Regions from separate parts of the Homo sapiens genome. Here region 1 is linked to region 2. The links come from fine-mapping of genetic effects on gene expression. Tissue or cell type: tibial nerve. Region 2 holds a variant in brackets; the other region holds the start of a gene. All regions are shown on one strand. Distances are between the middles of the regions.

Region 1 (5,141 bases), 50 kb after region 2:
AGGACAAGGCAGGCGGATCACGAGGTCAGGATTTCAAGAGCAGCCTGACCAACATGGTGAAACCCCGTCTCTACTGAAAATACAAAAATTAGCCGGGCGTGGTGGCGGGTGCCTGTAATCCCAGCTACTCAGGAGGCTGAGGCAGGAGAATCGCTTGAACCCAGGAGGTGGAGGTTGCAGTGAGCCGAGATCACGCCACTGCACTCCAGCCTGGGTGACAGAGCGAGACTACATCTCAAAAAAAAAAAAAAAGAAAAAGAAAAAAAAGAAAAAAGAGGAAAAGTGATAGGCTGGTTTGCTCCTGTGAAAATCTCTCTCTGGACAATGTCCAGGGACCTGGCAGCAGCTGGATGGGGCAGGATGGAGGCGCTCCACAGCCTTTTATACCTTCAGGCTTTAAAACATACGAATGTATTACCCAGTTCAAAATTACATGTATATTTTAATCTAATAATGACTGTTCAGGAGGAGCTGAGGAGGGGGCAGAGCCAGGTTGGCCACCCCAGCAGGGTCCCTGCGGTGCTGGTACATCAGCCTTGAATCGGCTGTGGCCCCCACGCCAACCGTCCTCCTCCCTCCGAGGGGACGGGGCACCCACCTGCCCCAGGGTGCACTCCATGCCCCCCAGGAAATCGTCCTCCTGACAGCTGAAGCCGCTGGGCCCATGCGTGTCGTACACCTCAAAGCGCAGCCTCTGCACCTCCTCGAAGTAGTAGTCCACCGTGAAGACCTTGGAGAACACGGGATGCAGGCTGCTCCGGACCACCTCGGTTCTGCCCACCTGCAAGTGCACCTGTGAGCCGACCCCACTCCAGAGGCTTCCACCCCGGGCTCCAGACCTCCATCTCCCCTCTGCCGCTCACCCACGCCCAGGTACCTCAGGAGGACTCATACCCTGGGAAGACCTCCTGCCTGCTCTCTGTCCATGGGACCACAATCCCGAGGGCCACCCTGGGGGTCACCCCTGGCCACCACTGTCTGCTCCACCCTCAGATCACAGATGGGGAAAGTGAGGCTCACAGAGGACGAGAATGACACGCTGAGTCGGGGGCGAGATCAGATTCACACCCTGGGCTGGGCAGCCCTAAAGTGCAGGCCGCTCCCCAGCACCAGCTGAGTGGGGAGGGGGCGTAGGGTACAGGGGGGCCCTCCCTCCTGGCTGGGGTACCATGGGCTCACCAGCCTCTCCCATCCCATGCAGTTCCCTGGTCCAACTGCCCCGTAAGGACAAGACCCAGCTGGGCCAGTAGGCTACTCATTTCAGAATCCTGAAAAATCCTGCACCTCAAACCAAGGGCAAACATGGGCCACCCGTACAGCTCACGCTCTGAGGGTGCGGGCACGAGGCCTCCGTGGGGATGGTGGGCTCGGGATGTGAAGGGTGGGCTCAGGCTGTGAGGGGCGGGCACGGGGCCTCCGGGGGCAGCCGGAACCCTGGGGACAGGCGGTGAGGGCGGGGCAGGCCCTTCACCCTCAAGGTGGATGACCGGAGACGCCACCGGGTGACCGCGTCCCTTCCACCGCCCGAGCAGCCGCCCGGGCCCGCGCTGGAGCCTGGAGAGACCCCTGCGCCGGGGAAAAGCGCTGGCGCCCCGCGCGGACTGGGGTTCGAGTTCCGGCTCCTCCGCCCGCTGCGGCTTCGCGCCATGCGTTTCTCGCCCTTTCGAGGTGAAGCCACGCGTTTCACGCGAGATGGTGACCGAGGAAGCGCCCGTCTGGCGCCGGCCCCGTGCCCCTTCGGACCCCAACCGCGATCACAGCGGGTTCGCTTGAGACCCACGTTGGAGCGGGAGCCCCGGACGCCTGGAGGTCCGCACCCCAGCGCGCGCTCCCTCGCCGGCCTGCTCCCGCCCAGCCTCCCGCCCCCCGTCGGCCGGCGCCCCTCACCCCTCAATCTCCTTGCGCCTCTTGGTCGAGCCCCCTGCCCGCGCCTCATGCCTGGGCGCTTCACTCTGGCCCGGGGCCCCCTCCCCGAACCCTGGGCCGCACCCCTCACTGCGGGGCACCCCCCTCTCTCCTCCGAACCCCGCTCGCCGCCACCTCCTCCAGCCCAGCCTCTCCCCACAGCTCTGGACACCCCACCCCCAGACCTGGTAACCCCCAACCCTGACCCCGAGCTGAGCCCCAGCTCCGGGGGGCCCCGCCTTGCGCCCCACTGGCCTCAGCGCGCCCGCTCTGGTCTCCGCATCCCCAGCTCGGCGCCAGCCCCGGCCCGGTGGCCTCTCGGCCTCCCACGCCCCGGCCCTACCTGCACCCACTGGCCCTGCGCCTGCTGCAGCAACGCCACGCTGGGGTCGGACTTGGTGAGCGGGTCGCGGTCCAGCAGGTGCCGGCAGCTGAGCCGCAGCTCCACCTTCGAGGCGCAGGGCGCGGGCAAACCCCCGGGGGTTGCCGCCGCCCCGCGCTCCGAGCCCGCGCTCATGCTCCCGGCGTTCGGGGGCCCGGCTGGGCGCACTGAGGGGCCGCTGCCCGCGAGTCGGCGCCGCCGCGGCGCCCGGGAAATGGTGGCCGGCCCAGGCGTGGCCGCGCTTCCCTGAACGCCTGCCGGGCGCGGGCGCACGTGGCTCGGGCGGCCGCCGCGCGGGGACTGCAGGGGGTGGGGCGCGGCCGGGGGGCGGGGCCGGGGAGGGGCGCGGCGGGAAATGAGGGCAGGGGGCAGAGGCAGGGGTGCCCCTCGGAGATGCCCGGGAGGAGACAGCTTCTAATTCCCCGGGGACCCCCCCCCCAACTGATAGCTTTGGGGTCAGGTCGGGCGCGCCCTCCCCGGCTGTGCGCATCCCCGGCCCAGGGACCGGCTCCGGGCTGGAGGCTCCGAGCTGCGCGGGGCCTGAGCCCGGGTTCGGACCCAGGCAGACACTAGGGGAGGCAAAAGGGGGACCCCAGCTTGGCACCAGATCCCCGCGCCCTTCCCGGATCTCTAGGATCCCATTTCCAGGCTCCGCTGGTTTCGGGTACTCGCCACCTCCATCAACAAGCATTTAGTGGGCGCCTGTTGTGTGCAGGCGCCGCGCTCGTCTGGGGCTGGAAGGACCGTCCCGGGGGGCCGAGGGCTGAATCGCGGTCTGATTCCGAGGGGTCCGCGGGGCACGGTCCACACCAGTCCCCCGAGGCCGGGGCGGGGCGGGGCAGGCCTGGGTTCCGTGGGGGGTGGGCCCGCTCCGCCCTGAACTCACTCCCCCACCTTCCCCATCACCGGTCCCGGGGGAGGGAGCAGCGGAAGAGGAGGCGTCGGCGGGGACAGAAACCACCTCGCAGTCCACTCTTTTTGCCGATTTCTGCCTAAAAATAGGGCACGGACCTCGCCAAAAGCCACGGGGGTGGGGGGCGAGGGTGAGGGAGACATTAAGACTGAAGAGGCGGGAAGACCGGGCGCCTCCGCTCAGCCTCGGCGATCAGGACTCTAGAAGAAGACCCTGCGGTCAGAGGGGACCGCCGCCGACAGGGCGAGGAGGCTCAGGGCCCCGCCGGCGGGAGGCAGCACAGGCAGCCTCGGCCTGGGAGGAGGAACGCGGCCAGCGGCGTCCCCTCGCGGTCGGACGGCGGGATGGCGCCGGGCGCGGCTGCAGGGCGGGGAGGCCCCACGGGGCTGGCAGGGCCGGGAGAGGCCATGGAGACCGGCTCCTGCCTTCCCGGGAGGTTGGCTAAAGAGGCGAGGAACAGGTCAGGGCGCAGCGAGGCCTGCAGGGCCCCATCTGCTGTCTCCCCGGCCTCTGCGCCTCCTCCCTGAAGCCCGCAGTGGGCAGAGGCCAGTCCCGCTCTCTAGGGACCAGTCTGGGCCTTCCCGGCCCTGTGTCCTCCTCAGCCCAGCCTTCCAGGCTGCCGGGAGGCCACATCCTCGGTCCCCAACCACTTCCATGGGAAAAGGATGCGAAATTCAGGCAAAGGGTGCGGGCGCCCAGGCAGCTCCTGCAGGCCGTGCCTCCCGCTCGGTTCCAGCAGCCCTGGGACAGTTTTCCCCAGACCAAGCTCCGCTTCCTGCCTTGACCTCACCCGAAAGCTCCTCACCACCGCCCTGAGGTTTGCTCGTCTGCAGTGTGGCGTGAGGCCTGAGGTCCACCAGGCTGTCTGAGGGGTACCCGGCTTAAACCTGGAACACCCCAGTTCAGCCCTTGGCTGTCACATAGCGGCACCCTGGCAAAATAACAGATGGCTTCCAAGCAAAGGACGCAGGGAGCCAAGAAAGATCACAGAGTTTGGGAATTTGAGTCTCTGAAGCCCAGGGCGATTTGGGATCTCCAGCCACAGCCCTCGGCCGGCTTGCTGTCTCCTGACTGACAGCCCTGACTGCAGCCTGCTCTAATGGAGAGAAACCACAGAAGGAAAAGCCGATTCCCCTGTGGCACTGGTGTCTGGACGCTGCCTGCCCCTGCTCAGGGATCAGCCCGCAGTAGGCCCAGGTACAATGGAAGGACCCCGCAGGCCATGTGGAGCCATCTTTCCAAGGCTCCCCCTCCCAGCTTTCCCTGCAGGGCCAGACACAGGAAATGAGATCCACACACATACACGCAGGAATAATAACCGTGTTCCTTGTTGAAATATTAGACAATGCAGATAGGGAGTAAAAACAAATTTCCAGACCCCAAAGCAGCCCATCACCTCCCCACATCTAACCCTCCAGGTTTTTTTTTTTATGTGCAAATTTCTTTTAATTGTCAAAAAAAAAAAAAAGGTGCCTAACTCTCAGAGCCCTTCCCACACTTGAGAGGACTCTTCAGTATCTGCACGCCAGGCTCATCACGCGGGCCAGGCCCGGGACCCCACGCCAGGCTCATCACGCGGCCCAGGCCCGGGACCCTGCCTGGCACGGTTGGAGCACCATAGGTGTTGGTGCAGATGGTTTCTGTTCTGTAACCTGCTTTTTTCTTTCTTATTGACAATATTGCATTCAATGGTTAGCCTGGATCCCCTCATCACTGGGTTACCTATGAGACCCTCTGATTAGTGCCGACCCCCACGGCTATCCAGAGGCTTACACATGATCAATTTTAGGAGCAGCAATGACATATCTGTGCCCAAGTGCCCTGTGTGGCTTCCTGGCATCCAGGACTCAGATACTTTTCAGGCCCAAGTGCCTCTGCCTCAGCCTCTCCCACCACCCGACCCCTACCTACCCTGCAAAGCCCAGCCCAGTCTGAACCGCC
Region 2 (5,141 bases):
GTTCTGCTTGTCGCTTCAGAGGCAGAAACTGAGTGACAGGAGAGCATTTCCAAGAGCACCACACTCCCTCAGGTGCCACTAAGGAGAGAACTTGAGGCCACTGTATTTGTCCATTTTCACACTGCTATAAAGAAATACCCTTTGGGGGCTGGGCAAGGTGGCTCACACCTGTAATCCCAGCACTGTGGGAGGCTGAGGCGGGCGGATCACCTGAGGTCAGGAGTTCGAGATCAGCCTGGGCAACATGGTGAAACCCCGTCTCTACTAAAAATACAAAAATTAGCCAGGCATGGTGGTGCATGCCTGTAATCCCAGCTACTCGGGAGGCTGAGGCAGGAGAATCGCTTGAATCCGGGAGGTGGAGGATGCCATGAGCTGTGATCGCGCCATTGCACTCCAGCCTGGGCGACAAGAGTAAATCTCTATCTCACAAAAAAAAAAAAAAAAGAAAGAAAAGAAAGAAAGAAAGAAATACCTTTTGTGGCCGGGTGTGGTGGCTCACGCCTGTAATCCCAGCACTGTGGGAGGCCGAGGCGGGTGGATCACCAGGTCAGGAGATCGAGACCATCCTGGCTAACATGGTGAAACCCCGTCTCTACCAAAAATAAAAAAAATTAGCCGGGCATGGTGGCGGGTGCCTGGAGTCCCAGCTACTTGGGAGGCTGAGGCAGGAGAATGGCATGAACCCGGGAGGCAGAGCTTGCAGTGAGCCGAGATTGCACCACTGCACTCCCGCCTGGGCGAAAGAGCGAGACTCCGTCTCAAAAACAAACAAAAATACCCTTTGGGAGGCCAAGGCAGGAGGATCACGAGGTTAGGAGTTTGAGACCAGCCTGACCAACATGGTGAAACCCCTTCTCTACTAAAAATACAAAAATTTACTGGGCATGGTGGCCCTTGCCCGTAATCCCAGCTACTTGGAGGCTTTTGGAGGAGAATCACTTGAACCAGGGAGGCGGAGGTTGCAGTGAGCCGAGATTGCAACACTGTACTCCAGCCTGGGTGGCAGAGCAAGACTCCGTTTCAAAAAAAAAAAAAAAAAAAAAAAAAAAGAAGAAATATCCAAGACTGGGTTCCCCTGCCCTTCCTTTCCCTCTTCTCCCCTCCCCTCCTTCCTCTCTCTCTCTCTGAGACAGAGTCTCAGTAGGTCACCCAGGCTGGAGTGCGGTGGCACAATCTCGGCTCACGGCAACCTCTGCCTCAACTGATTCTCATGCCTCGGCCTCCGGAGTAGCTGGGATTACAGGCGCACACCACACCCAGCTAATTTTTTTTGTATTTTTAGTAGAGACAGGGTTTCATCATGTTGGTCAGGCTGGTCTTGAACTCCTGACCTAAAATAATGTGCCCTCCTCGGCCTCCCACAGTGCTGGGATTACAGGTGTGAGCCACCATGCCTGATCCCACATCTGACTTTTTTTTTTTTTTTTTGAGACGGAGTCTCACTCTATTGCCCAGGCTGGAGTGCAGTGGCGCAACCTCAGCTCACTGCAAGCTCTGCCTCCCGGGTTCATGCCATTCTCCTGCCTCAGTCTCCAGAGAAGCTGGGACTACAGGCGCCCGCCACCACGCCCGGCTAATTTTTTTCTTTTTTTTCTTTTTTTTTAGTAGAGACAAGTTTTCACCGTTTTAGCCAGGATGGTCTCGATCTCCTGACCTCGTGATCCGCCCGCCTCGGCCTCCCAAAGTGTTGGGATTACAGGTGTGAGCCACCATACCTGGCCCCACGTCTGACTAATTTTTTATTTTTACTACAGACAGTTTCACCATGTTGGCCAGGGTGGTCTCAAACTCCTGACCCCAAGTGATCCACCCGCCTCGGCCTCCCAAGCTGTTGGGATTACAGGCATGAGCCACCGCGCCTGGCCAAGACTGGGTAATTTTTAAAGGAAAAAAGCCTTCATTGACTCACAGTTCCACATGGCTGGGGAGGCCTCAGGAAAATTACAATCATGGCCGAAGGCAAAGGGAGGCAAGGCATGTCTTAAATGGCAGCGGGGGAGAGAGTTTGAGGGGGGGACTGCCAAACACTTTTAAAAACCAGATCTTAGGCTGGGTGCGGTGGCGCACGCCACCGCGTGATCCAAGCACTTTGGGAGGCCGAGGCGGGTGGATCACCTGAGGTCCGGAGTTCGAGACCAGCCTGACCAACATGGAGAAACCCCATCTCTACTAATAATACAAAATTAGCCAGGCGCGGTGGCTCATACCTGTAATCCCAGCTACTCGGGAGGCTGAGGCAGGAGAATTGCTTGAACCCGGGAGGTGGAGGTTGCGGGGAGCCAAGATTGTGCCACTGCACTCCAGCCAGCTTGGGCAACAAGAGTGAAACTCCGTCTTAAAAACCACCACCACCAACAAAAACAACAACAAACAGATCTTGTGAGAACTTTCTCGCTACCACGAGAACATGGGGTGAATGGCCCCACGATGCACTCACCTCCAGCGGGTCTCTCCCTTGACAGGTGGGGATTATAATCTGAGATGAGATTTGGGTGGGGACACAGAACCAAACCGCATCACTCAGCTCCACCATTCAGTGCCCAGTGCAACATGAAAATGCGGCACCCTTATTCACACATCGCAAGAATCTCAGGGCCTCTCAGGGCCTCACAGTGGCGGGAGGACGGGGGGCAGGTAGAGGGAGGCACATGTCTTCCGAGCACCAGACCGGGGCCGAAAGCCACGCGTGGACTGCATTTTGCACCGTTTCTGAGGCTCAAAGCCACGGACTTAATTCAACACGAGGGCGTCCTGGGGGTTGGGCAGGGCCCCGTGTCCTGGTAGGCTGTGGGTTCCCCTCTCACGACCAC[T/C]GTTCAAGGGCAGCGTGGGTGAGCTGGTTCAATTTCTCGGCCTCAGTCTCTTCGTCTGTCAAGTAGAAGTCATGGATGTACCTACTTTACGACAGTCCTGCTGTGAGCACAAAGGTACCAGCCACTCAGATCACCCTCGGATCAAGGTAGTCACCTTACACCTGTCTTTTCCGTGGGGTTTTATAGTTTGTCCCAGAGTTTCCAGTTGCCTTTCTTCTCCTGCCCTACACTGGGTGCCCTTATCTTCCATCTTCCAAGCTCTGGACTCTGCAACCTCCCTCCCTGCCCCCAGAGCCTCCCCTCGTCCAACCTGCTACTCCCAGCCTGGAATGTCAGTGCTCACTTAATGCCTGCACTGAAGGTCTTCCACCTTTGTTTGGTTTATAGTCCTGATAGAGTTTGAATGTTTGTCCAGATCTCACGTGGAAACTGGATCCCAGTTGGGAGGTTTTGTGTCATGGGGACGGGCCCCTCATCAATGGCTTGGTGCAGTTCTGGAGGTAATGAGTTCGTTGGGAAGAGAACTGACGGTTAAAACGAGCCTGGTACCTCCCCCCTCACTCTCTGCCTCCCTCTCTGCACGTGATGCCCTGGGAGCAGGAGAATAGGGTCTGGGGGCAGGGAACTTAGGCCAATTCGTGCTGAATCAAGGAAAAACAGCGAGGCCTGGGGCAGGGAATGGGACGCTAATTTGTGCTGACTTCCTAAAAGAGAAAACACCAAGGTCAGGGGGAGAGAGTCCGAGGCCAAAGCACGCTGAATCCAGGAAAAACTTCAAGGTCTGGGGCAGGGAACCCAGGGCCAATTAACACCAACTTCCAAAAACTACACCCTGAGGAAGAGCCCCACGCCCAGTAGCAAAGGATCAAAGGCTGCTCTCGTACAGCCCCCACCACCATGTCCCAGATGGAAAGGAAAGTGCTGTGGACTGGCTGCGGGCCACCCTTTCATCTGCAGACACCAGTTTACCTCAGCCTTTGATTAGCCACGGACCAAATCTTTCATCCAGATAAGAGGTATAGGAACCATGAAAGGTGCCCTTAAGACCCAGAAAACTGGCCGAGGGGGTGGCTCACACCTGTCATCCCAGCACTTTGGGAGAGTGCGGCGGGTGTATCACCTGAGGCCGGGAGTTCAAGACCAGCCTGGCCAACAAAGAAAAACCCCGTCTCAACTAAAAACACAAAAATTAGCCGGGCGTGGTTGCGGGCGCCTGTCATCCCAGCTACTCCGGAGGCTGAGGCTGGAGAATCGCTTGAACCTGGGAGGCAGAGGTTGCAGTGAGCCGAGATGGCGCCACTGCACTCCAGCCCGGGCGACGGTGTGAGACTCCCTCTCAAAACAAAAAAAAAACAAACCCCAGAAAACTATGTAACAGCGCCCCTCTCACCCCACTCCCGACCTTTCTCGCTTTAATAAATCCCTGCTTTCGCTGCTTTCTTTCCGTGTTTTGTTCGTTACTTTGCACGTTTTGTCCACTTCTTTGTTCAAACGCCGAGGACATGGACTATTACGGTCCAGGCCATCCTTCCAGTGACACCTGCTCCCTCCCCTTCTGCCGTGATGAGAGGTTCCCTGGGGTCCTCACCAAAGGCAGACGCTGGTGCCACGCTTCCCATTCAGCCTCCACAACCATGAGCCAAACCCACCCCTTTTCTCTATAGATGACCCAGCCTCGGGGATTTCTTTGGAGCAATGCAAAGCAGACTAAACCCTATTCCATTAGAGTTGGCCCTGCAACCATTCCCTAGCAGCGGGTCGGCAGGAATTCACTCCCCAGTCCTCCTGTCTGTCTTTATTCTGCCCTCATCAGTAGTTTCTCTGGATGTGCACTTTGGGCGGGAAACCTTTGTCCCTCAGGAGGTGACCGCACCACAGTCCGTCTGTGCATGTGTGGTGGATGGGCCCGGCTGTGTGTGGGCAACCGCTGTTCCCTCCAGGCCTGGAGCTGCCTCTTTCCTCGGAGCGCCACGACTTCTCAGCCACGTGCTTTAGTGTGAGGCTTTTTCACTCCCTGGAGCGTTTCCTCTGCCTCCGGTCCAGGGAATTTCCAGTCGCCCGTATCCCTCTTCTTCCCCTCCTTTCTGAGCTCCGTCTGGCCAGGGTTTCAGGCAGGGGTTGCACTGTCTGAGCTTCCTTTCTGCCTCCTGTCCTGGCTTTCTTCCTGCTTATCCTGTGCACTCCATTTCCTCTGTTTTGTCTCCCAGCACGGTTCTTTCGTGTTTTCTTGGGGGTTGTGCGTCTGGTCTCCGGAGGGCGGTTTCCAAGGTTTGCTGTGTTCTTTTCCGCCCCGCTCCCGTCAGGGAAGCAGATCTGCTTGGACTCAGC

Evidence for each region. PIP is the estimated chance that this variant, and not a neighbour inherited with it, causes the effect.
Region 1: CPNE7 starts here. The variant in region 2 is fine-mapped to the expression of CPNE7 in tibial nerve (GTEx, PIP above 0.99).

Annotation. Positions count from the first base shown.
Region 1 is chr16:89,573,179-89,578,319 of GRCh38, reverse strand. CPNE7 (copine 7) reads right to left here and starts at 2,562. Exons shown (of 15, transcript NM_153636.3): 1 at 2,249-2,562; 2 at 599-781. The coding sequence starts at 2,422. RefSeq lists silencers at 3,099-3,168, 3,409-3,638, 4,099-4,356.
Region 2 is chr16:89,623,563-89,628,703 of GRCh38, reverse strand. The region is part of intron 1 of DPEP1 (dipeptidase 1); the gene reads right to left. Among named protein-coding and RNA genes, the nearest start is that of DPEP1, 12 kb to the right of the region's middle. RefSeq lists enhancers at 121-290, 4,340-5,141. The variant T/C (reference allele first, on the strand shown) is at 2,814.